3 separate regions of the Homo sapiens genome follow, and regions 1 and 3 are each linked to region 2. Evidence: fine-mapped expression QTL. A gene starts in region 2. Each other region holds a variant in brackets. All regions are shown on one strand. Distances are between the middles of the regions. Region 1 holds the start of LOC124904445 (a long non-coding RNA gene). Region 2 holds the start of C1orf226 (chromosome 1 open reading frame 226). Region 3 holds the start of MIR556 (microRNA 556).

Region 1 (8,060 bases), 60 kb before region 2:
AAAAAGAAAAGATGACCCTCAAACCCACCATCCTGTCTTGCCGTTTCACTGCCAGACTCTTTGGAGAAACTGCATTTGCTATCTATATTTCCAAAACTCCCATTCACTTTTCAGCTCATTTTAATTGGGCTTCCTGAGCTACTCTACTGAGACTGCTCTTGCTAAGGCCACCAGGGATGTCTTAGTTGCAGAATCCCTGGCTCGCTTTCTGTCTGCATCTTATTCAGTCTCTGTGAAGCACTTAATGCTGTGGGTCTTTCCACCCTTCTGGAGACTCTCTGCTCCCTCAGCTTCCACGATTGTTTTCTCTTGTTCCTCCTCAGATCTCTTGGTCTTTTTCTGCTCAGTATTTTTTTTTCTGACTCCTCCTATTACGCCCTCCATTTAAATGGGTACTGTTAGTGGGATTCTCTCAATGAGCCCCCTTTCTTCTTCTTCTTCTTGATCCTCAGGGGATGTCGTATTTCCTATGGCTTCAACCACCCTCTAAATCCCAGTCTATGCTCCTCTGCCCCCACACTCTATCCCCTCCATCCCTTATTTCCAATTGCCTCTTAGACAATTCCATCTGGCTTTTGCCTTCTCAAATCTGACCTGTCCAGAGCCACACCACTCCTCCTCCTTCCATGTTCCTTAGTTCTTTTTTCCTTCTGTGGCCCTTGACCCCATTAATGTTTAGTCCATCTGCCAAGTTACACAGCTCAGAATCATATCCTTCCCTCTCATTATCACACCCAGAGAAATGATTCTTGTGTCCACCTGCTCTCCCCATGGTGGCTGCCCCTGCCTTTGTTAGGCCTCCAGTGTTTCTTGCCTGGACTCAGGGTTGGTTTGTCTGGCTGCATAGACTGTGCTGTGCATCGCTCCAGGTGTGTCATTCAGGGCCCTGAGCCCAGGTGCCCTGCACTTATTTCCCAAACTGTAATTCTCACAACAGCTCCCCTGTTTGTAGATGAGAAAACTAAAACTTGAGCATTGAAAGACTCACCCAGTAGCTCACAAATGTAAGCAGCAGAATGGGGATTTGAGTCCGGTTCTTCTGACAGCAAGCCCCAGGTCCAGATTCTGTTGATTCCCCTAAGCATTCTGTATTGCAGTAGGCTCTTGGTGGCCTTCCTTCTGCTCCTGCCCTCCTCCAATCCATCCTCCACACCACCATGACTACCAGCCATGTGATCCCCCTGCTTAGACTCCCATCCTTGCCCTGAGCCCACAAGGTGAAGTCTGAGCTCTGTAGCTGGGCTCTCCACAATTGGCCCTGACCTCCTTCTGTCCCCATCTCCCACCAGTCCTTCTGTATGCCCTGCAATCCCTGTACCCAGGCAAACTGTGCTACCTCATGACCTCATGCCTTTCCACATGCAGTTTCCATTGCAAGGGCTCTCCCTGCTCTTCTGTCTCGGTGATGGATAGATTTCCATTGTCCCAGATCTGCTCAGCAGCCCTCCCCACTGTCCTCAGTGCCCAGGGAGGCTGGCCTGTGTAGACCTGTCCTGAGAGCTCCTGCCAGATGGCACACAGCTCTTCCTCTCTTGGCTCTGGAAACTGCTCCCTGCCCTGCCTCTCTGGACTTGGGGTGCTGAGGGCTCCCAGGGACACTGCACTGCCCTCACCTTTGTGAACAGTCCTGTATTAAACTCTCTTCAGCCTACTCACATACTCTGTTTCCTGCCAGGACCCTGACTGACACATTCCCCACCCCACAATCCTGCCACCTCCCACGTTGTCTTCGAGTCACAGCTCAGGCAGCAGCTCCCTGTGTGCCTTCCCAGTTCCCACAGGCAGCTGGCTGCATCCTCCTCCGCGTTTCACTGGCTCCATTCCTCTGTCCGCACTTGCCACACCCTGTCTGTACCCCCTGAGCTCCTCAGGGCAGTCTCTGAAGCAGACTCAGCTCTGTATCTTGGAGAAGCCAATATGGGGCCAAGGGGGGCGGGGTACGGAGTAAGATGTGCGTATCTTAGAAGAGAGGTCATGCTGGACCACCCCGACACCTGCTTTTCGGTGGTGGGGAGACAATGAGAAAAGAGCTTCTGGCATACAGCAGATGAAAATAACAGGAATTCTCAGGCAAGGACTTGCCTCCTTCACAGCCTTCTGCTCACATTTCTCCACCCTTTGTGGACAAGGAGTGGACAAGCAAGTGTACAAACCTTTGTTGATGATTATTTTGCACTGGGAAGATTTTGCCTAATGCCTCTCTGCATATAACACTTGAAGGAAAGTATTCGTTTGCTTGAAAGCAAAAGGATAAACTTGAGAAAAGAGAAGAGGAAGGGTCCTTACATGCTGCCTTCCAACCACCCCCTCCCCACATTGCCAAAAGAAAGATACAAGACTTTTAAAAAGTAATTGGAGCCGGGAGCGGTGGCTCACGCCTGTAATCCCAGCACTTTGGGAGGCCGAGGCGGGAGGATCACAAGGTCAAGAGATCGAGACCATCCTGGCCAACATGGTGAAACCCCGTCTCTACTAAAAATAGAAAAATTAGCTGAGCGTGGTGGCGCGCGCCTGTAGTCCCAGCTACTCGGGAGGCTGAGGCAGGAGAATCGCTTGAACCAGGGAGGTGGAGGTTGTAGTGAGCCGAGATTGCACCACTGCATTCCAGCCTGGTGACAGAGTGAGACACCATCTCAAAAAAATAAATAAATAAAAATAAAAAATAAAAAAGTAATTGGAAATCAAAACGAGGTCAAATAGGAATGGGTTCATTTTTCTCCCCCACTTTTTTTTAAGGTTTGCCAATGGCCTGGAAGTAAAGGTACACAGTCCTTTAAAAAGCAGCAACATGCCTGTGTCCTGAATGGTATTGCCTAGGTTTTCTCCTAGGGTGTTTATGGTTTTGGGTCTAACATTTAAGTCTTTAATCCATCTTGAATTAATTTTTGTATAAGGTGTAAGGAAGGGATCCAGTTTCAGCTTTCTACATATGGCTAGCCAATTTTCCCAGCACCATTTGTTGAGTAGGGAATCCTTTCCCCATTTCTTGTTTTTGTCAGGTTTGTCAAAGATCAGATAGTTGTAGATGTGTGGTATTATTTCTGAGGGCTCTGTTCTGTTCCATTGGCGCTATTCACAATAGCAAAGACTTGGAACCAACCCAAATGTCCAACAATGATAGACTGGATTAAGAAAATGTGGCACATATACACCATGGAATACTATGCAGCCATAAAAAATGATGAGTTCATGTCCATTGTAGGGACATGGATGGAGCTGGAAACCATCATTCTGAGCAAACTATCGCAAGGACAGAAAACCAAACACCACATGTTCTCACTCATAGGTGGGAATTGAACAATGAGAACACTTGGACACAGGGTGGGGGACATCACACACCAGGGCCTGTTGTGGGGTAGGGGTAGGGGAGAGGGATAGCATTAGGAGATATACCTAATGTAAATGACGAGTTCATGGGTGCAGCACACCAACATGGCACATGTATACATATGTAACAAACCTGCACGTTGTGCACATGTACCCTAGAACTTAAAGTATAATTAAAAAAAAAAAAATATATATATATATATATATAAAAGCAACATGGATGCAGCTGCAGGCCATTATCCTGAGTGAATTAAAACAGAAACAGAAAACCAAAGACTGCATGTTCCTACTTACGAATGGGAGCTAAACAATGGATACACATGGCCATAAAGATGGAAACAACAGACACTGGGGACTCCAAAAGGGAAGAGGGAGA[AG/A]GGGGGACAAGGACTGAAAAAGTTCCCGTTGGTGCTGCGTGCACTGTTTGGGTGACGGGTTCAAAAGAAGCCCAAACTCCAGCCTTGCGCAATATATCCGTGTAACAAACCTACAAATGTAACCCCCTGCATCTAAAATAATAAAATAATTTCTAAAAAACACACAAAAAAGAAAAAGACACTAGATTGTGATTGAGAGTGAGTTGTCCCAGGCCAAATCAGAATGGCCTGGACATTGACCTGAGGGTGGGGCAGGTGAGAATTAGAAATGCTGATGCCTGGAGTACACACAAGCCACCAGCAGTGGCTTGTCATCTTATCTTCAAGTCCTGGGAGGAAGTGCCTTCAGGTGAGTTCTGATTCTGACTTCCTCTTCCTCAGATACAGCATGAGGTAGGCAGGTCAGAGCAACTGGAAAAATAAAAATATTAGAAAAGAAAAGTATCTGGACCTGCCAGCCAGGCATGCTCCCACCCCTGGGAAGCTTGGGGAAGGAGGTGGATACTCTTTCTTCATTTCCCGTCATGGCACATGGGACTCCTCACATGCTGAGCAGGTGGCATGAGAGGTATGGAGTTAGAGTCAGGTACAGAGGGAGTTATGGTGGGAATCCTCAGACGCTCAAGTGGGAACTCAACTGCCTTGGAAAAACAAGATGTGCTTATGATGTGTATCATATCCCTGGATTGGTTTATTTGAAGAAACATGGATGGAAAGTGGACAATCAGTCAGGGATGATAAAGAAATCCAGCACCTCTTACCCACGTGTCCCCTGAAAATCTTACCAACATGAGAATGAATTTGTTGGTGACCATAGAGACATCTATGAAGACATCCAGGACTTGGAAACATAAGAGGAATAAAAAAATCCAGGCTTTCCAGGTGGCATAAATGTAACATGGGACTAATTTCTAGCCCAGGTATAGAGAAAACAATAGTAATACGGGTAATGAATGACATTCAATATTCAAATGATATCTGATGATTAATCAGGCAGATGGTGCAGCAGTTTTCAGAACTTGGTGAAGATTGCTAGGGTTCCAATTCTAATGCAGATACTATAGTGAGTTGAAATATGTCCCTTAGAAAGCTATGTTAGGATATGTTCCTCACCCCGGTACCTGTGAATGTGGATGTTATTTGAATATAGGGAGTTTGCAGATGTAATTAAGGTGAGGTCATATTAGATTAGGGTGGACCCTAAATCCAATGACCAGGGTCCTTACAAGAAGAGGGAAATTTGGACACAGAGACAGAGGAGACACAGGGCAGAATGCCGTGGGAAGGCAGCGGGAGCAGACTAGAGTGACGCTGCTGCAAACCCAAGAATGCCAAGGATTGTTGGCAGCAGCCAGAAGCTAGGAGAGATGTGGAATAGATTCTCCCTGAGAGCCTCTAGAAGGAATCAGCCTTGATTTTTGACTTCTGGCCTCCTGAACTGTGAGAAATGAAATTTCTGTTGTTTTAAGCTATCCGACTTGTAATAATTGTTACAGCAGCCCTAAGAAATTAATACAGATACTACTGGCTGTGTGACCTTAAGAAAATGCACAGGGGTTACCTCTCTGTTTCTTCATCTGTAAAATGGAGATAATAACTGTATCCACTTCATACAGTTGTTGTGAGGATTAGATGAGTTTTTGCCTGTAAAGTGCTTAAGCAGTACCTGACAGATGGTAAACACACAATAGATTAGCAAATATTCTTCTTTGATCACTTCAATTTAGTAAAGATTTTTTTGAGCAACTACTATGCGGCAGACCCTATATGTAAGTTATTTCATTTGATTCTTGTAACAGTCCTGTGAACCTCTTCTTATCCCATTTTGCAGTTAAGAAAACTAAGGCTCAGAGTATTAACTTGTTTTGAGAAAGCAGACGAGCTGCAACCTCGACTGAGCCTTTGGCTCTGTTCTGTCAGGTCTTCTATTCCACAAAATTACAGGCATCTCAGTGTATACTGGGGAGTGGACAAGGAAGGGTGCGAACCTTTGTTGATGATTATTTTGCACTGGGAAGATTTTGCCTAATGCCTCTCTGCATATAACACTTGAAGGAAGGTATTTGCTGGCTTGAAAGCAAGAGGATAAACGAAAAAAGAGAAGAGGAAGAGGTAATTTTCTAGATGATGCTCCTCCAGCATACACCAGTCAAACTAGTGCCCCTAATATTTGTGGTGTGTTCATTTTCTCTCTTTTTTCTGGCTCTGGGAGGGAAGTTGTGTCTCTGAGCACAACCCTCAGGAAGTCCGAGGGTCCTGAAAAGTGTGGGATGGATGGTTTAAGCCCCCCAAATGTGAACAAGCTACATGTATGAACTCAGATAACACAGACACACAGAAGAAATAAATTGGCAGCCTGTGTAAATAGATTTGGTTTTTGACAGCCAATAGCAGGTGATGGTTATTTTGGAGAAATTATGAGTGTTGGAGAGAAATTAAAGTCTTGAAATATATGAAAGGATTTTTGTGTAGTGGTTTTGTGAGGGACACTAGCCTTTTTTTTTTTTTTTTTTTTTTTTTTTTGCCTCCCTGTCAAGTACTGAACAAGAAGAAATTAATTTATCCCAGTACTTGGCATTTAGAAAGTGCTGTGTGGTGGTTTGTGGTTGATTCAAGTAAAGCAGGGGAGGTTTTAGTGGGACATAAGAAAAAACTTAACAGCTGTGAAATTAAAACATAAATTAACTGCTGATGTAGGCCATGAGGGTGCCTTAGCTAGACTTTCAGAAGATAAAGATGCATTTGTCTGGCTCTCGCTAGGTCTTAAAACCTCAATTGGTTGCTTATTCGTTACTCTAGGCACACAGTAGATCTTTGTAACAATAAGTTAGACATTTGTATAATTTTATTCATTGAAGAAACCTTAGGAATCAGCTCTTATATTTGCATTTCTCTGCCTGCAGTTGAAGTGATGAGCTTGACTGTCTCTCGAGGTCTCTCCCAGCCCTGGAATCCCAGGCTTCCTTCCAGACTGTGCTGCGATGAAGCAGATCTGTGATATACATCCCAGTCATGGTGACAAGGGGCGACTTGACAGTGTGGCCCCACACTTCAGGTGTCTGTGGAAGTCAGGCTGTGAAGTAAGGAGACCAGTTCCATGAGGGATTTCAGGCACCATTTCATGAGTTTATTACCCTTCTTTTTTGCCAAATAGCCCTGAGGAAGGTAGTCATCAAATCGAGAATGGCTAAAATGAGGAATGAAGAAGATGGAAATTACAATAACTTCAAATAAAAGCAAGCCAGCTGATGTGATTAAAAAGCCCTGTATATACAGTGGGGGGAAAATGATAATCAGACCAAAGCAGTCATAAGAGAGAACAGTGATCAAGATGGGAGACAATGTTATATAAAGATTAAATTAAAAATAAATAAGATAGATGAGGAAAAGAATGAGTAACAGCTGCGACAGGAGTGTGAAACTGTGTTCATGCTGCAGGGCTGGTTGAGAAGAGAAAAAGACACACCAGTAGGCAGGCAGCATGCTGGGGATAGGAGTAAGGGGTGCATTCTTCCTATAGTGTCTGGTGGTGTTCTATCAGTGAAGCATTTGGAGACTCTCGTCAACCCACCACCCCTTCTGATATTTTCCCCAGTCCCTCTAAGGATAACACATTGGGCCCCCCAGAATCACATGGGCTGGGACGCTTAGGGAACCCTTCTTCCCGAGACCAGGAGTCATGCTGGATTTCCCAGGACCATGCCTTCACAGTTAGGCCTCATTTATCTGGTCTTGAGCAGCAGGTTGATTCTGTTTTCCGACTTCTGCATGTGTCACATTGTGCTTCTTACTTTCCCAGAGGTTTTCCTTAAGAATACCACTTGATTTTGTCTCCACCATCTTCAGGTGACTTGGTACCTTATCTTTATCAGCTGGTTTCATTTCGCTCTGTGCTGCAGCATGTCTTTTGGGGTTAGGAATGCCCATGCGTTCCAGGACCTCAAGAGAAAAATCTCTATACCACACACTGGAGACTCCCCTAGCCCCACCGAGAGATACTGATGTTGGGAGAACAAGAAATATTTCTCTTTGTTTTTCCACTTGACATTTCTAAGTTTGTTTCCACAGTTTTCAAGTATTTGTACAACATTTCATGGGTTAGAGAATATTTGTGCATCTGTTGTCGCATCTGAACCTTATAATCACCCTGAAAGATGTTTTTATTATTCTCACTTCAACGATTAAAAAAGAAGAAGGTTGAGAGAAGGAAAATAATTTGCTCAAGGCCCCTTGGTAGTCTACATCCTCTACCCTAAAGTTCTGTTTTGGGCTATGGCAGGAGAGAATTGCGTGGCAGGTCCTGGGCTTGCTGGGAGAGACCCAGTGGATCTTGAGCAGGAGGCGAGGAACATGGAT
Region 2 (8,060 bases):
CAACCTTGTGCACTAACGAGGTGTGGAATAAGGTGAAAGATGATTGTGACACTTGGAAGATAAGCTGAAGACACCCCTTTCTAGATTATCACAACATGTCAACTAGATACAGAGCAGGGCTGCAGATCTAGATGGCAGGTATGTTTATGCTGCATGGGGAGCTATGGCCGCTCTGGAAATAGTGATGGGCTTGTTTTGCAGTGCTGTCGAGCATGTGTGAGTGAGGTGTGAGTTAGCTTCTGCACGTGAGAGCCCAGAGTTGTCTTCCTGTGTGTATTTATTCACGGTACTGAAACATTCGAAGGACAATGGGAGAACATGATTCCCCTCGTGTTCCTCCCAGATAGCCTGGTTTGGAACATTAGCATGTATTGGAAAGTAAGTTGAAGCCACATACTTTGGCAGTTTGGGGGGTATCAGCAATTTCATTTGGTCCATTATGGTGTAGAGAAAGCTCATGAGTCTGGGCATCAGCTTATGTGACTTCTAACCCTGCTCCGCCATGAGCTACCTGTGTGATATTGGGCAAATCTCTCTGCTACTTGGTTTACCCATGTTATTAGTTTAGACTCTAAACTGGAATGGATGAACATCTTCCTGGCTAAAACCCAGTGACTGACATGTGGACAGTAGCATACTTGTGAGTGATGCACACAGGACCCCGAGGACTTGGAATTGCATTCTGTCTTGACCCATCACATTTCTCCGACTGCCAACTTCAGACTCTCCCACTGCAACCTCAGACTTAAAGTAAAGGGAGCTTAAAATACTGGGGGGAAATATGGGAGGCAGAATCTCTCAGTGCCTGTGTAGAGTTTTTAAAATGCGACCCGGTTTTGGTTTAGTCACTGAAAAGTTTGTGGGAGCCTGGCGGTTCCAGGGTGCACACCACTCCTCGTAGCAGGTCCCCTGTCTTGTGTGCTGTGTCCCCCCGAGGTATGCTGGTGCTGGTGGCCCAGGCAGGAGGTGACACTCTCAAAGTGACTGGTCACTACGTAAAATGTGTCTTTCTTTTGTTTGTTTCCCACCTGCTTTCCGAGCCCCTTTCTCGGACAGGTAAGATATCCTGTTTTTTTGTGGATGACTTACATCCCCAGATGCCCTCCTCTGCTTGGGTGTGTGCATGTTGGGGGGTACTGTTGGGAGGGCCACCTGGCTGGGGTCCAGTCATCTCTCTGTCCTCCATTGCCATTATTTTCTGAACCATCAAGCCTCTAGTCCTGAAGCAAGAGAGATAATGTGTGGGGGTCATTAGCGTCATCATCAAGAAAGGGACCCATTGCACATCCTCAGACATAGGGATAAAGGGACCCCCCAGCCAGAGCCCCACTTTCACTTTGAATAGAAGGGCAGTTATCCGGGTCTGACCTCAAGAGCCCCTGAAGACCACTCCCATAGAGGGAGTTTTGAGTGGTTTTTATAAATGGAAAAAGACTTGTGAGCAGTTTCCCTACAATGTCAGTCCATCATGCAATTTTTAAGAATTCATATAAAAGTCAAATTCAATTAAACAAACTTATTAAATGCCTACTATCGTGCAAGACCCTAAGCTGGGCATTGTAGAAGATAAAGAAACACTTCAGGAGCTATGGCCCTCAAGGACCTTACCATTTTAAGACAAGGTGTATTTACTGGAAAGACTTAGACAAGGGTAAAGGGAGTGCATGGTAGGCTATCTTTACATTACTTAAGAATTCAGTGCGTTATAGACTATGTTATGAAGGGTAGAGAGCAAAAAATACAGGAAATCCAAAATGGTGCATAATCCAGAGTTCTGTTTATTACAAAGAGTGTTTTAAAAATAATAATAGCTTATAATTTACTAATCACCTTGACAGGTGTTTTTGGTGCTTGCCTTTTTAAAAACGAGTATGTCTGCTCTGAAAAGTCACTTTAAACCAATAAGGAGACCACCAGGGAAATGTCTGATTTGGGAAGTGGTGGCAATTTGCCTTCCCCGGGCATTTCGTACAGTTTCATTGTTGTCTATGTACTTTCTGGTTTGGGGGGAAATAGTTAAATGGTTTGGTTTCCAAATCTTCTTTGCTAGTTTGCGGATGACGTGATTAAAGAAAATAAGAAGGATGTGGGACCTGACAGGCAAATTGTGCCAAAGTGGATGATGTGGCAAGATACACACTTAGGAGAATCATCAGGAGTTGATGACCCTGCTTGCTGTGGAGCGGGCTGGAAGCTTCTGCTGGTGTGGTGGGTCTATCTGGAGCCCAGCCAGCTTGGGCCCTGTGTCCCAGGGATGCTGTCATGCTGTTCCCTGGCAGGTCCTCACCCTGCAGTGGTGCAGGCCACAGGGCTCATCCGCAGAGAGTAGTCTCCACTTCACTTCCCACAGGTTTTCCTCCCTGCCACCCAAAGGCCCTTAGAATATGGCATACCTAGGTAGTTGGCCTAGAAAGGATAGCACCACTGAAACCACAAGAAAGGTTTTCACTGGCCCGGGATACAGCAGTGCAGGGCAGAAAGAACTGCTTTACACAAAAATTCAGCAGAAGAAAAAGTACACCCTAACCCCAGTTACTCTTAGAAGAGGCTCAGTGAAAATAGACACTTAGCAGAGGTGTTCACAAGGAAAGGAGCCTAGTCATCAAATGATCGAGCGATCTCCTTTCCTCAGACTGACAACATATCTGGGGTAGTTGGTGTAGACAGAAACCTTGACCCAGATTCCAAGGCCTCAGAGTGGGTCTGGCTGCCTGATGACTGAGCTGGATTTCCAGATAGGGAGAGGATGGCCAAGTGTGAGTGTGTGGACAGCATGGCTTAGAGCCTGGAGCTCCAGTCATTTCAATAACAAACCTTTAAGCTACCACCTTGGCCACCACAATTTTCTATCTACAAAATGGGTTTTGGCGATTCAAGATCTGTATTGAGCACAGCTAGGTACCAAACCCAGGCTAGGTGTTGAAAATACAAAGATGAATGAGGCATGCTCTCTGCCTTGCAAATCTTTACAACCTAATGGGTTTATACCCAGCTCTTTGAGTTAATTTTTCAAGCCAAAGAGGATCCCTACAAGAAGGACCATGTACCAGGCATATATAGGCAGCTGTTCCATGATCTATAGCAGGGCAAAGTTGTGGACAGAGCCCTGAGCTGTGGGTTAGAAGGCCTGAGTTCTAGCTCCAGCCCTGCTAGTATTTAGCTGTGTGACCTCAGGCACGGCACTGCATTACGCGGAGTCCTGCAGGCTTCATCTGTAGGTAGATATCCTTCCATGTACCACCTCCCTAGGTGGTTGTAAGGATTAAGTAAGCTGATGTTCATTGGGATCCTCGTGCTTCACTGGCACCGAGTTCCTATCCATTTGGTACGAACTGATTCTGAACCACCACTTAGCACCTCTGCAAGAGCTGGCCCACTCGCTCAAGGCCCACCTCTGTAGACCTGAGGAGCTGCTGCCCCATTTTTTGTGGAGAATATGTGCTATACTCATGGCCTTCAGTGGGGAGCTTCTAACACCAAGCCTCATCCATGCCATCCCTCCACCAGCTTCCAACCCACTGAGAGCTCAGCACGTGCTTACGGTGATGTAAAAATGTCATGTTTCATTGCTTCATCCTCATTTTTTCTTTACTCCAAAGGGCGTGGTGACTCCAAGGTAAAGGGGCCAAGCCCATGAGTCAAGGAGGCAGGTTTACAGGAACAACTTTATTTTTTTATGGCTAGCATTAGTCACTGATTAACTTGGGTGGGGCAGAGCTAGAATTTCTAGTTCCTGTCCCATCAAGAAAACTACACTGGAAAGTTCAAGAGTGTCTTTGCTGGCTCTTTCTTGAATATTTCCAAAGCCTTGGAAGTTACAGGTTTTGGGTGTGGGATAAGGAAAAACTGAATGATAGAGCACAGGTACCGCTCCCCTTTCCTCATCATGCCTCTCTGTCGCCTCTTTGTTCATAGTTGACCACGGCATGTTTGAGAATTTGAACACAGCCCTCACTCCAAAGCTCCAGGCCAGCCGCTCCTTCCCCCACTTGTCCAAGCCCGTGGCCCCCGGCTCTGCCCCTCTGGGCTCTGGTGAGCCTGGGGGGCCAGGACTCTGGGTGGGCAGCAGCCAGCACCTCAAGAACCTGGGCAAAGCCATGGGGGCCAAAGTGAATGACTTCCTGAGGAGAAAGGAGCCCTCCAGCCTGGGCAGTGTGGGTGTGACAGAGATCAACAAGACTGCAGGAGCACAGCTGGCCAGTGGGACTGACGCGGCTCCAGAGGCTTGGCTAGAGGATGAAAGGTGAGCCCCTCACCCGCCCAACATCCATGCCCCTCTGTGGACCCACTTGAAAAGGTACAGGGACAAACTGCAGTGTCTGCACAGGAGAACAGCCCCAAGGGAGGGGTGTGAGATTGTCCTGTACTGAAAAGCTGCAGGATCAGGCCACGTTCTCGGGAGCTGGCTTCACCTTCTGCAGCCACAGCTGAAGGTTGCTGAGTGCCCACCATGTCCTCGGCTCTGTGCTGCTGAAGGTTGCTGAGTGCACACCATGTCCTCAGCTCTGTGCTGCAGGCTATAGTTGCATCATTTTGTCTAACCCTCCCAGCAGCCCTGGGAGGTAGATGATATTTCCATCCTGCAGATAACTCACGTTCAGACAGACAAAGTAAATAGCTTGAGGTCACAAAGATAGTACTTGGCAGAGCTGGATTTGAACCCAGCTATTGCCCAGAAGGTCCCCAGGTAGATTCTGATGCCCGGCCATAGCTGAGAAGCGCTGCCGTAGACTGTTGCTTGTGGAGAAGCCTGCACCTGTCACAGCCCACTAGGGCACAGTGGGAGAAGCCCCCTGTAGCAGCCCTCCTGTTCTTCCCCCTCCTACCAACAGGCTCTTTCCAGGCCTTGTTTTAAACACCTGTGCATCTGAGGTGGGAATGCCCTCACATTCCCTGTTTTAAACACAGGACTTACTGCCTGGGTTCTGATTTGACAAGCTTCACCAGCGGTCTCTATCCTGTCTTCTAGAGGCCAGCACTTTGTGCTGCTCTGAACACTGAGTAAGCATGGACCAGGCCAAAAGCTACTGTTATGCTGAAATTGCTAAGGCCTATGTGCCAAACCAAGAACCAGAGCCCAAGGAGTAGAGCAGTTATTGGGTGGGGTGGGTTGAAAGTGCAGTTGGAGTTGGAGAAGCAAGATGGCAGGTGGATTGGTGTCTTGCTGTCCTTAAGGCATGTGTGTTTATTGTCATTAACCTTACAGGTCAGTCCTGCAAGAAACATTTCCTCGGCTGGATCCTCCACCTCCCATAACCAGAAAGCGAACCCCTCGGGCCCTGAAGACCACCCAGGACATGCTGATTTCATCACAGCCTGTCCTCAGCAGTCTGGAGTATGGGACAGAGCCATCACCTGGGCAGGCCCAGGACTCCGCTCCCACTGCCCAGCCTGACGTCCCAGCAGACGCTTCACAGCCAGAGGCCACCATGGAAAGAGAAGAGAGAGGCAAAGTTCTGCCCAATGGAGAGGTTTCCCTGTCAGTACCTGACCTAATCCACAAGGATAGCCAGGACGAATCCAAGCTAAAGATGACTGAGTGCAGAAGGGCCTCCTCCCCCAGCCTTATCGAGAGGAATGGCTTCAAACTCAGCTTGAGCCCCATCAGCCTGGCTGAGTCCTGGGAGGATGGCAGCCCCCCTCCTCAGGCACGGACCTCCAGCCTCGACAATGAGGGCCCTCACCCAGACCTGCTGTCCTTTGAATAGAGCCTCTGCTCTTTCCTGCTGAGCTCTGCCCTTGTCTTCCTGCTGCTTTCTCCTCCACTGCGCACACTGGCCCTGGCCTCAACTCCGCTGTGCCCTTTGTCTTCCTTGTATGAGGCACCAGCAGAGAGCCAGTCGTCCATCATGGGATTTTGCAGGACTGGAAGTCCTTGAGTAGTTCTAGTTAAAGAGTCTATCCGCAGAATGGCTGAAGGACTTGATGCCGTTTTGAGCCTAATTTTCTGTAACCTCCTCTGAGTGGGCTGCAGCCCTTGGACATTAGAGCTCTTCCACTCTTGAGCTTGTCCTGTCTTCTCAGTGAATTGCAGGGCCACCAGCTCAGGACAATGGATCTTACAGGAATTCTTTTTGCCTGTCCCCTACATGCGCCTCCTCCCCTGCTGTTCTCCCTCCCACACCCCTGTCCCTTCTCTCTCCTCCTTGATGGGTCCGATGCCCCTGGCCTCAGCGGGAGGAAGGCTGGATGAGGAATGATGTGTTTGGCTTGATGACAGGCCATGGCCTAGAAAGCCACACACCCTGACCACAGCCCAGCCATAGCTCCTCTTGGTCCCAGGACAGTGCAGGCCCCTGGTTGCCATGTTTGCTCTGCCCCTGGGGTGGAGGCCAGAGGAGATGCTTACCAGGCCTGAGACCTTGAGAGTTCACCCAGGGTTTGAACGCTGCCACCCAGGGTTCCCAAGGTTTCTCCCATCTGGTCAGATGTCGAACACAAAATGTGGGCATTCTGCACGGAAGGAAAGATCAGGCTTCTCTTGCTGAGTGTGTGAAGACAGGGAGAGCCAGGCCCCAGCAGATGCGGCCTAGCACACTCTGATTTGGTTTTGTGGGGAGGGCCCAGGAACTTGGGGGTGGTCTTGGCATTCAGAGCTGGTGCTAAAAACCCAGAGCAGAAGCAGGGAGAAGGGAGTGAGGATGGGACAGAGAAGAGCGACCACTGGGGATCAGAACAGCTTTTCAGGGGCCACCTTGCAGCCTAAAATAATGCCGTTTCAGGGCCTGGGCCTGCTGTGAGAGCCAGAATGAAGCATGTACAAGATTGGAATGTGAGAAGAACTGTGGGGGGAAACCAGTTTTAATTAAGTGGAAGTGCTTTGTGCTTGTGCTGAAGTTGCCTGGGCCTCCTGCAGCTCTGGACCTCACTGGAGCGGCCCCGCCCTGCCCTTGCCTGCCTTTCTTTTATGCTGATGCTGGTGGGCTTTTTCCTGCTTCAGGATCCATGTAAGGGACTGACCAGGTTCATCCAGCCTTAACTGGTTCCTGCAACCCACTTTTAGGTCTCCCACCAGGGGCCTATTGTGCTGTCTTCCTGTGACCAGCAGATCCTGTAAGGGGGTGATCCTAATTCTGGGGCTCTTTGCAGCAAGAGGAGAACGTTCTTTTTCTTGAACAAGGTGGCCGGTTCCCTGGGAGAAGGCTGGGAATGGCACGTCCGGCCAGGGCAGGCGGTGCGGCATCCTCCTCCTGGGATTCCTGTGGCCTCCCCTGTTCTATTCATTGTTTGGCTTCCCACCCATAAGCTCTGGGATACCCAGGGCTTGCTTCCCAGCTCTTCTCATCTCCAAGCCTCTGCTCCCCTTCCCACCACCACTGCCATATAAAATGGCCATGCTAACTCCTACACAACTAGGAGCCTCAGCAGGATTGCTAGGATGTGGGTTCCTTCCTGCATGCTTGCTTCTGCAGCTGTGTGGCCTTGCCATGGCCCTCCCACCACTTTCCCTTCTACCTTGCCTTCCATTGTCTTCCTTCTCCCAGAAAGCCAGGTTTCACCACGTGCTCACCACAAACTGTCTCCCCTCCCTCGTAGGAGTCACTGCAGTAGGGCACCTGCAGGCCCTGGTAGAGTGAGCAGGGCTTACGTGTACATTCTTTCTCACTCTAAGGATGTGATATCTGACCCTGATGTCAGAGAGGAGGTCTCAGGACTAGCATTCGGGGTCCTTTGAGTGTTCCCAGAATGGTTTGGGGTATCACACAAAACACCAGAGCTGAGGATAGGGATAGAGTCCCCAAACACACATCCTGGGAGCAAGCCACTTCATCTGAGCTTCCCATACCAGGAGCATGGTTTGTGCTTTGATGGGAAACCTAGCAAGCCCCTGCACTCTGGGGCTTCTCCTCTCCTGGAGCCCAGGGCGGCTCTGGCCCGATGATATGGCAGCCATAGGTACAGGTATTGCAGGTGCAGCCTTTCTTAAGTACCCTGCCTCCACTCTATAGCCCAGCTGCTGCTGGAGTCCAGGACCTTAGACCCAGGATGAGCAAAAGGATCCCACCAGGTTGTCCAGGACCATTGCCAGGGTGACCCCAGAGTTCTTCAGACCTGTGTCT
Region 3 (8,060 bases), 38 kb before region 2:
CAGCGTGTGTGATTCTTGCATTTTGGGGTTGAAGGCAGAACCAGTTTTCTTGCCCTGCAGGCCAGAAGGTGGGGTAACTAAGTGGGGTAGGCCTAGCAGGCAGGAGCCAGCATGGCTGTGCAGAAAGCAGATGGTGAAGACACAGCCCCTCCCAGGCACAGGCTGCCTCTACTGACCACCTTTAAGTAATCACCTCCCTAACGAGGTCCCCATATAGAATCCTCTAAAAGTAGACTTTTTAATGGTGAAGCAAGGAGAGCCTAAAAGGTCAAGGGACATCAGAACTCACATAGCCATTTATGAGTACAGTGAGGAGCTGTTTAGCCCCTTCTGACTCCCTGAGTGGTAGATAGGAAGGGCAATTCTTTTATGTGTATGTATGTAGTCATTCTGTGAAACAGTTAGAGTAGCTTGATTATGTGTTCCAGTGCAGAGGGCTCTTTATGAAACATGCTACAGTGTCCTTTTACTGTGAATAGAAATATAACCTTCACATTAAAGGAGTAAAATAAAGGATAAATTAAACCATTTAATTTATTAATTTAATTATTAAACTGTTTACCACTCAGTATGCAGATCTAGAACTCTTAATGCAACAATTTCCTCACATGTAGAAACTATCATACTAGCTCAGACCAAAGATCCATTTGGCTCAGGAATTTTCCTGTGCTGCTATGGTGGAGGCTATGCTATCTGATGCACAGCCTTTTGGATGTTAGCATACATAAGTAAGAGGTGATTCCCTTAGTCGCTTTATGTTTCTACTATGATAAAAATTGTTCCACCTTTCCTGCACTGCTTTTTCTTTTCTGTCTTAATTGCCTCTTGGTGCAGTGAATTCCATAGTCAGGATAAAACATTTCTTGAGCATTTACTATATGCCAGGCACTGTGGTAGGTGCTATCATATATTCAGTTTTTCAGTGCAGTTACAGAAATACCGTAGAGAACAACGGGTGGAGGGAGGATAGGAAGGAAATGGGAGGCTGAAGGATGGGATGCCCTTTCCAGCATGGGGAAGGCAGAACCAGTAAACCTAAAGTCTGCATTTCCTACTTTTTCAGGGGAATCAGGTAGAGGTTAGGGTCAGCTGCTGATCCTAGTAAAAAATACTAGTAAAATGTGAAAATGAAGTGTTATCAATATTAACCATTAAAACCAGCCTACTTCCTTACAGCCACTTTGGGCTTATAGATGGTTGAATATGTGAGTATGTTGCACATGTTTGTCCTTGATAAAGGTGGCAGAATAGAGATTTGAGCTGGAGTCTATATTCTTAAGATGCTCAGTTCTGAGCATAGCCCATCATCCATTGTCATCTTGTGATGCCTGAGAAATACAGGTCCTCTGTGAAGTCATTCTCCCACCACCTTTATCCTCTTATTTAAATCTGAGGGATTCCTTCCAAAGATAAATTTAGAAATTCGATTCCTACCCCTGTCTAATCCCATAGATCAGGGACATTTGTTTGAGGATCTTTAAATTTTTAATATCATCTTAAAAGCTGGTTAAAGGAAGTATCTGTGATTTACAGAGATGATGGAATTTGTAACACGTCCTCCTTAGGAAAACCTGAGATGTTATAGGAACAAACTCAGTAGTGAATTTAGAATTTTCTATATAACTGTATTTTAAAGGGGGAACTGTATTTTAATCTGTACCCTGGGAATGAAACCGACGGGAAAAGACTAACTCAGTCTTTGCAGATATTTATTCAGTATGAGATATCTGGGTTAATTCATGTAAGAGAAGAAAGTAATGGAATTAAACACTTAATCTCTACATATCATTTGGACTTACCATATTTTATTGTTACAACCTAAAACATTTACCTTTTTTACCTTTTGTAAAGATACCTGGGGGAGCAAAATTCCCAAGAGTCAGAGAAGAAAGTAGAGGAAGGTTTCTGTATAGTGGACACTGGTAGGACAGTGGTAGGCAGAATAAAGTCATACCTAAGGTTTAGTAAACTAGTAACGAGCTTTGCCGTAGACGATTAACCATAGGCAGTCTGCTCTTACTCTCATAAAAGGAATAGGAACCAAAAAATCTCAAGGCCTAGGGGAATAACAGTTTCGGATGTAGGAGCCTTTACTTCTCCCTTTTCACCTGAGAGTTAAGCTTCCTGGCACAGCCTCCTAAGCACAGCACAGCTTGGTGGCTAAAGGAAATGTAGAAAGCTGGAGTGTTCCTAGCCCACATTTGTTAGGGACTGTGTCTTCTAAATCACGCCTTTTTGTGTGTTTTGGGAGTGGGAAGTGTAGGGGCTTCTTGCTTAGGACTGATGCCTACTGCTTCTCAACTTCCTGTGCAGATAGAACAGTCATGTCTTACACACTGCAAGCCTATGGTATGAGAAGGGGCCTAAGCCTGCCCTGTGGACACAGGAGGAAATTAAGGGTAGATGTAGAAAACAGAGGTTCTGATTCGCCACTGGGTGATGGTGGACCCCACAGAAGTTACCCATCTCCTCCTGCTTCGCTTAAGGTTCTTATCTCCCAGAAGTGTCAGGATATTTCAGGTGAGAGACCAATGGAGAATATCTCTGGAGTTAGTCTAATGGCTAAGAAAGGTTAGAGCTGTAAAACAATTACTTCTAGGAGTAGATTTGAACTGAAGAATATAGGGAGCAGTAGAGTTGACTGAGATCTCAAATTGACATGTAGATGATAATTAGTCAAGATGCCTTTCACATTAATATGGATGCTCTGGCCTGAAATAAGCAGAAGGAACATAGAAATGACTCCAGGCTTGAGGAGAAGCAATTCTAGAAGTTATACCCAGCAGAGAATGGACTACAGCAGTTGTTCCATGCACAGGGTTCCAAGGTCCCTAGGAGTTCACAAAGATAGTAATAAGAAAGATGAGCTCATTGTAATATGAGCTTCATTTATACATTTCATATTACCATTAGCTCATCTTTTTTATTACTACCTTCAACAAGGCCTTCTAGACTTATCAAAACACTGGATATCAGTTAGGTAATGTAATACCAGCTACCTCATGCTGATGAAAAGCCCTACTTGATTGCTGCCATTACCTGGGGTGGGTGGGAGGTGGATGTGATTGATGGACTATATGGTGTCAACAGGTGGCCATGGCTGACCTGAAGTCAGATCATCCAAAACACGATGAATGTTAGACTTGAGTATAGGGTGACAATCACAATTAGATTAAATTGTAGCCCATGGTGGTGGGATGCTTGAGGCCCACTGAGGTAAGAGAAGCAGTGTGCTGAGCCCTTCCCAGCCTGAGCTCTGAAACTCTAAATAAACCACATCACTCATTTCTGTCCTTGAAAGAAAGCAAAAGCTGACATCTTCAAACCATAATCAGTTATCCACCTTTGAGGCCATGCCCTGGAACCCCTGCATGTGGCTCTTCCTCACAGCCTGCATGGGTGGCCTAAGACTCTACATAGGAGCAGGCTTCTTTGTCCTCTCTCTCTTCTCCTAGTTAAATGGTGGAATACTGGGAACTAGGGTCAAGTTCTCTTCTTGGGCTCTTAAAGCAAGAGATTAAATACCAAAACAAAAGAAAGGAAGGAGCCACAGAATAGACCCAAGAACGTGAGGTCTTTGGAGTAAGTCTGGGAAAGTGTCACCTTAGATTTAGTTGGCTGCCAACTAGTGGTGTTCCAGAGGAGCTGGGTGCTGAGCTTCCATTGGTTTCTGCTGTTTAGGCCATGGCTTCCAAGCCTCATGTTACCACTGCCCTTGGTCTGCAGGAGCTCCAGGGAAACTCAACATTTGCAGCAGCATTCAAAAAAGAAAAAAATGATAGCCGAGTTCCTCTTAGTTTGATGGACCCATTGAACATTTTATCATGGCTGGCAAAAGATTCTGAAGCATATTGACTACTTCTGTTACACATGGGAGGGAAGAATTGGGGCTAAGTCCATAACTGGCATATTTGCTATCTGTCCTTTCAGTTGACTGATTGTTTCAGCACTGTGGTGACAGTTTCTGTTTTCTGGAGTATTTCAGAAAGGGGAAATGTCTTTGCACTCATTTGTATGTGCATATCTGAACAACTTTAGATTTTTCTGTCTCTTTCTTTGGCTGCTTCATGAGTTTCTATCCACATGCCCCTTGCGCATCCTCACCCATCCTGTTCTTCTCCTTTCTCCTTCCCAGAGCCAAGCTATGAGAATCGTTCGGACGGTGGGGCAGGCCTTTGAGGTCTGCCACAAGCTGAGCCTGCAGCACACGCAGCAGAATGCAGATGGCCAGGAAGATGGAGAGAG[C/T]GAGAGGAACAGCAACAGCTCAGGAGACCCAGGTAGGCACTGCGGCTTCTGTGGATGTGGGTGGGAAGGCAGTGCACACAGTAGGCTCTGGTGGATCACTGCCCTGACCCCCAGGCTGTGAACTCATTTTAAGAAACATTTTATTTTTTCCGTTTCTCTCTAAATTCTAGATTCTCTTTAAGGAACACGTATTACTTTTATAACAGAAATTAAAGATGTTTAAATTATTAAATGAGGAAGTATTTAAACTGGATATCAGGGAGAGGTAGAGCTGCTATACTACCAAATCTGACTTCAAAGAAGTTTTCAGTAAAAAAGCACCCCCATAAAACAAATTAGAAAGAACATAAATTTATAATTACCTAGTTTGTTTTATTAAATTTCTAACTTCTGTAGTTCTATAAGCCCTCAATATGGATAGTATTTTAATATCCCCAACTTTCAAGCCTCATTAAAAGTCAGGAAGGAGGCCGGGCGCAGTGTCTCAAGTCTGTTAATCCTAGCACTTTGGGAGGCTGAGATGAGCAGATCACTTGAGCCCAGGAGTTCAAGACTAGCCTGGCCAACATGGCAAATCCCTGCCATGTTGCCTGTATTTTCTACTAAAAATACAAAAATTAGCCAGGCGTGGTGGTACACGCCTATAGTCCCAGCTACTTGGAAGGCTGAGGCAGGAGAATTGCTTCAACTCAGGAGGCGGAAGTTGCAGTGAGCCAAGATTGTGCCACCGCACTCCAGCTTGGGCTACAGAGCTAGGCTGCCTCAAAAAAAAAAAAGTCAGGAAGGAGACAATAAATGTGAAAAAATGAAGTATGGGCAAGAAAAAGAGCAGATAAAAAAAATATTGTTTATGTTAATTTTTAACATGGGAAACCCAAGAAAATAAACTGAGAACTATTAGAAATAATAAGAGAATTCAGCTAGAAAGTCAAAGTTCAATAACACATACAGCTATATTTGTGATTTTCATATATTCCAAGAACAGCTGGTTAGAAGTCATAGTGGAGGAAAAAAATCCATTAAAATAACAATTAAAAAAAAAGATACTTATGAATAATCACAATAAAAATGTGTTTGTTACCTACGAAAAAATCTTAAACAAATGGAAAGGCATGCCATATTCTTGGATGGGAAAGCTCAACATCATAAAAATGTTAATTCTCTCTTTGTTTATCTATAAATTTAACATGACAATACAGATTTCTTTTCTTTTTTTCTTTTATTATTATACTTTAAGTTTTAGGGTACATGTGCACATTGTGCAGGTTAGTTACATATGTATACATGTGCCGTGCTGGTGCGCTGCACCCACTAACTCATCATCTAGCATTAGGTATATCTCCCAAAGCTATCCCTCCCCCCTCCCCCCACCCCACAACAGTCCCCAGAGTGTGATGTTCCCCTTCCTGTGTCCATGTGATCTCATTGTTCAATTCCCACCTATGAGTGAGAATATGCGGTGTTTGGTTTTTTGTTCTTGCGATAGTTTACTGAGAATGATGATTTCTAACAGCAAAAGAGGTACCACAGTAAGCTACAGTATTCAAAACTCATGGGATATAGCTAAAGCAGCACTCAGAGGAAAATTCAAAGGTTTAGTTATTTACGTTAACAGATGACAAATCATGAAAGTCAAATGAATTAAGCATCCCACTCAAAAAGTTAAAAAACAACAAAAGAAATGCTAGTCTGCAAATGGCAGCATTGCAAAGTGGCTCAGAGAGAAGACCTTTGCTTTGCATTGTAGCTGCACCAGTCACTGCCTGTGTGATCTTGGGCAAGTTCCATAACCTCTCTGTGCTTTAGTTTACTCTTCTGAAAAACAGAAATAGTAGTACTGTGCACTTCAGAATTATTGTCGTAATTAGATAAACTGATACTTTTAAAATGCTGAGCCTGGTGCTTGGCACAGAGTATGCACCACATACATGTATGCTATTATTTTTAAGTAAATATGTGAAAATTTAAAAAAACAAGAATAGAAAAAATCCTGGAAAAGATGAATGATAGCAGAGGAGGAGTGGCTTTCCAGTAAAACTGTGCTTATAATAGGTAAAACTCATGTTCAAATAAGTGCCTGAGCGGATCAGAATGGAAACTCATATACAAACCCAGATGTGTTTGCAAATTTAGTGTATGATAGAGAGGGAATCCCTATGGAGAAAAATGTGGAAATCTTTATTGAATTTGAAAATTCATATGCCTTTTGACCCCCAAATTTCCTTCAAATTCCCTTCTAAGAATGAATCCTAAAGGTAAACCCATAAAGGTGTGAAATGATTTCTATATAAGGTTACATAGCAAAGAATTTGTTATAGAACCAAAGGATCAGAAACAGCAAGAGGGAACTTTTAAATAAATTACAATACAATATGGTACAAATAATGGAATACTGCACAACTATTAAGAAGAATAAGTTAGTTCTCTATGAACTGATTTAAAGCCATCTTCAAGATATTTTGCTTACTTAAAAAAGTCAAAGTTTAGAATTGTGAATAAAGGAAAAAAATAGAATTGTGGGTATGAGGTACTACCAATTGTATTAAAAATGTATAGATTTAAATGTGTGTGTATATGTAGGTATATATGTATACACATGCATGCACACACACACATTTCTTATGCATGGAATATCTCCAGAATAGTACACAAGAAACTGGTAACTGTGGTTCATCCTGGGAAAAGGAACTGGGTGGCTGAGGTGGCAGGAAGATTGACTTTTCACTGTACTTTTATGGCCTTTATACTTTGGATATATATTAGTTATAAATCTTGAAAACCTGACATTATTTTCATCCTAGTGCTCAGTTTCTATGTGACTAGAGGGAATTACTTTACTTCTCTTTTGGCTTACTCATTTCTATTAAGTAGTGACATTCTATTACTAATGACAGCATCTCAGTGATCTTGACTCATAAAATATTATCACACAGACGGAGCCTTGCATTTGGTCATGTACCCTTGGCCAGTCTCAGTTTTAGCAGGCCGTAGTACTAATGTGATGTAAACCTTAACATTTTTCCATCTCTGTGATCTAGGGCTTAGAGATAAAACAGAGAGATAGATAGACTTTGGCGAATATTTTATATATCTCTGCTGGTCAATTTTTAGAGCGTAATGGTGACAGTTTCCTATAACTAATATGGAGGACACATCAGACCTCTAGCTGGTTGCTTGGCTCAAAGAACAGAAACCAATCTGCTCATTTCTGAATTGGAGGATTTGCCGTAAGAACTGCTAGCTGGAGAAGATTGAAGTCTTACATTGTTAACTCTTCTTTGGTCATGCCCATGCCCCGTTGGTGGCCTGATTGGCAGAGAGCCACATCCTAACTCTCAGAAGCTTTTAAACCCACAGTCACATTGGCAGCCAGTATACACATGTACAAAGAAAGTTTAACCAGAAAGTAAAGGATATTTTCTCTGGTGAAGACACCTATTCCTGGAGTGAAAGCGGTTGGACGCAGAGAGGATGCCCAGAGGTTGAATGTTTGAACACTGTTATTATCACAGAACAACCATCGGAGGAATTTAATCTAATCTCCAAGTACTTAATCAGAACCTGTCACTCAGCTGCTGGCCACAGAGGTCAGAGTTATATGGTCTGGCCAGGTGGAGAGAACCACCTGGATAGCATTTTATGTAAACAACACCAAGGGCTAGATCTTATTTCCCTTTTGCAGTGGGAGCTGCTCTCTCCTTGCACTTCTGGCCCCTGCAGTGGTCTGCTGGGTGGAGTGGGTTTGATGTGATTCACGATTCCCTGGGGACTCAGTGGGGATTCCATAAGGATCACTTCCTATACTTTTCTTTCAG

What was found. PIP is the estimated chance that this variant, and not a neighbour inherited with it, causes the effect. A credible set is the group of variants that fine-mapping cannot tell apart.
Region 1: its variant is the best candidate, but not a certain one, in a credible set for the expression of C1orf226 in whole blood (TOPMed, PIP 0.80).
Region 3: its variant is the best candidate, but not a certain one, in a credible set for the expression of C1orf226 in monocytes (TOPMed, PIP 0.80).

The regions. Positions count from the first base shown.
Region 1 is chr1:162,318,218-162,326,277 of GRCh38, forward strand. The region is part of intron 4 of NOS1AP (nitric oxide synthase 1 adaptor protein); the gene reads left to right. LOC124904445 (a long non-coding RNA gene) reads right to left here and starts at 1,271. Exons shown (of 2, transcript XR_007066701.1): 1 at 989-1,271. RefSeq lists an enhancer at 1,593-2,162. The variant AG/A (reference allele first, on the strand shown) is at 3,704.
Region 2 is chr1:162,377,976-162,386,035 of GRCh38, forward strand. It overlaps C1orf226 (chromosome 1 open reading frame 226), which reads left to right and starts at 3,753. Exons shown (of 2, transcript NM_001085375.2): 1 at 3,753-4,243; 2 at 5,207-8,060. The coding sequence starts at 3,927. The coding sequence ends at 5,708. RefSeq lists a silencer at 4,404-4,698.
Region 3 is chr1:162,339,700-162,347,759 of GRCh38, forward strand. It overlaps NOS1AP (nitric oxide synthase 1 adaptor protein), which reads left to right. Exons shown (of 10, transcript NM_014697.3): 6 at 4,136-4,277. It overlaps MIR556 (microRNA 556), which reads left to right and starts at 2,847; the gene lies at 2,847-2,941. The variant C/T (reference allele first, on the strand shown) is at 4,246.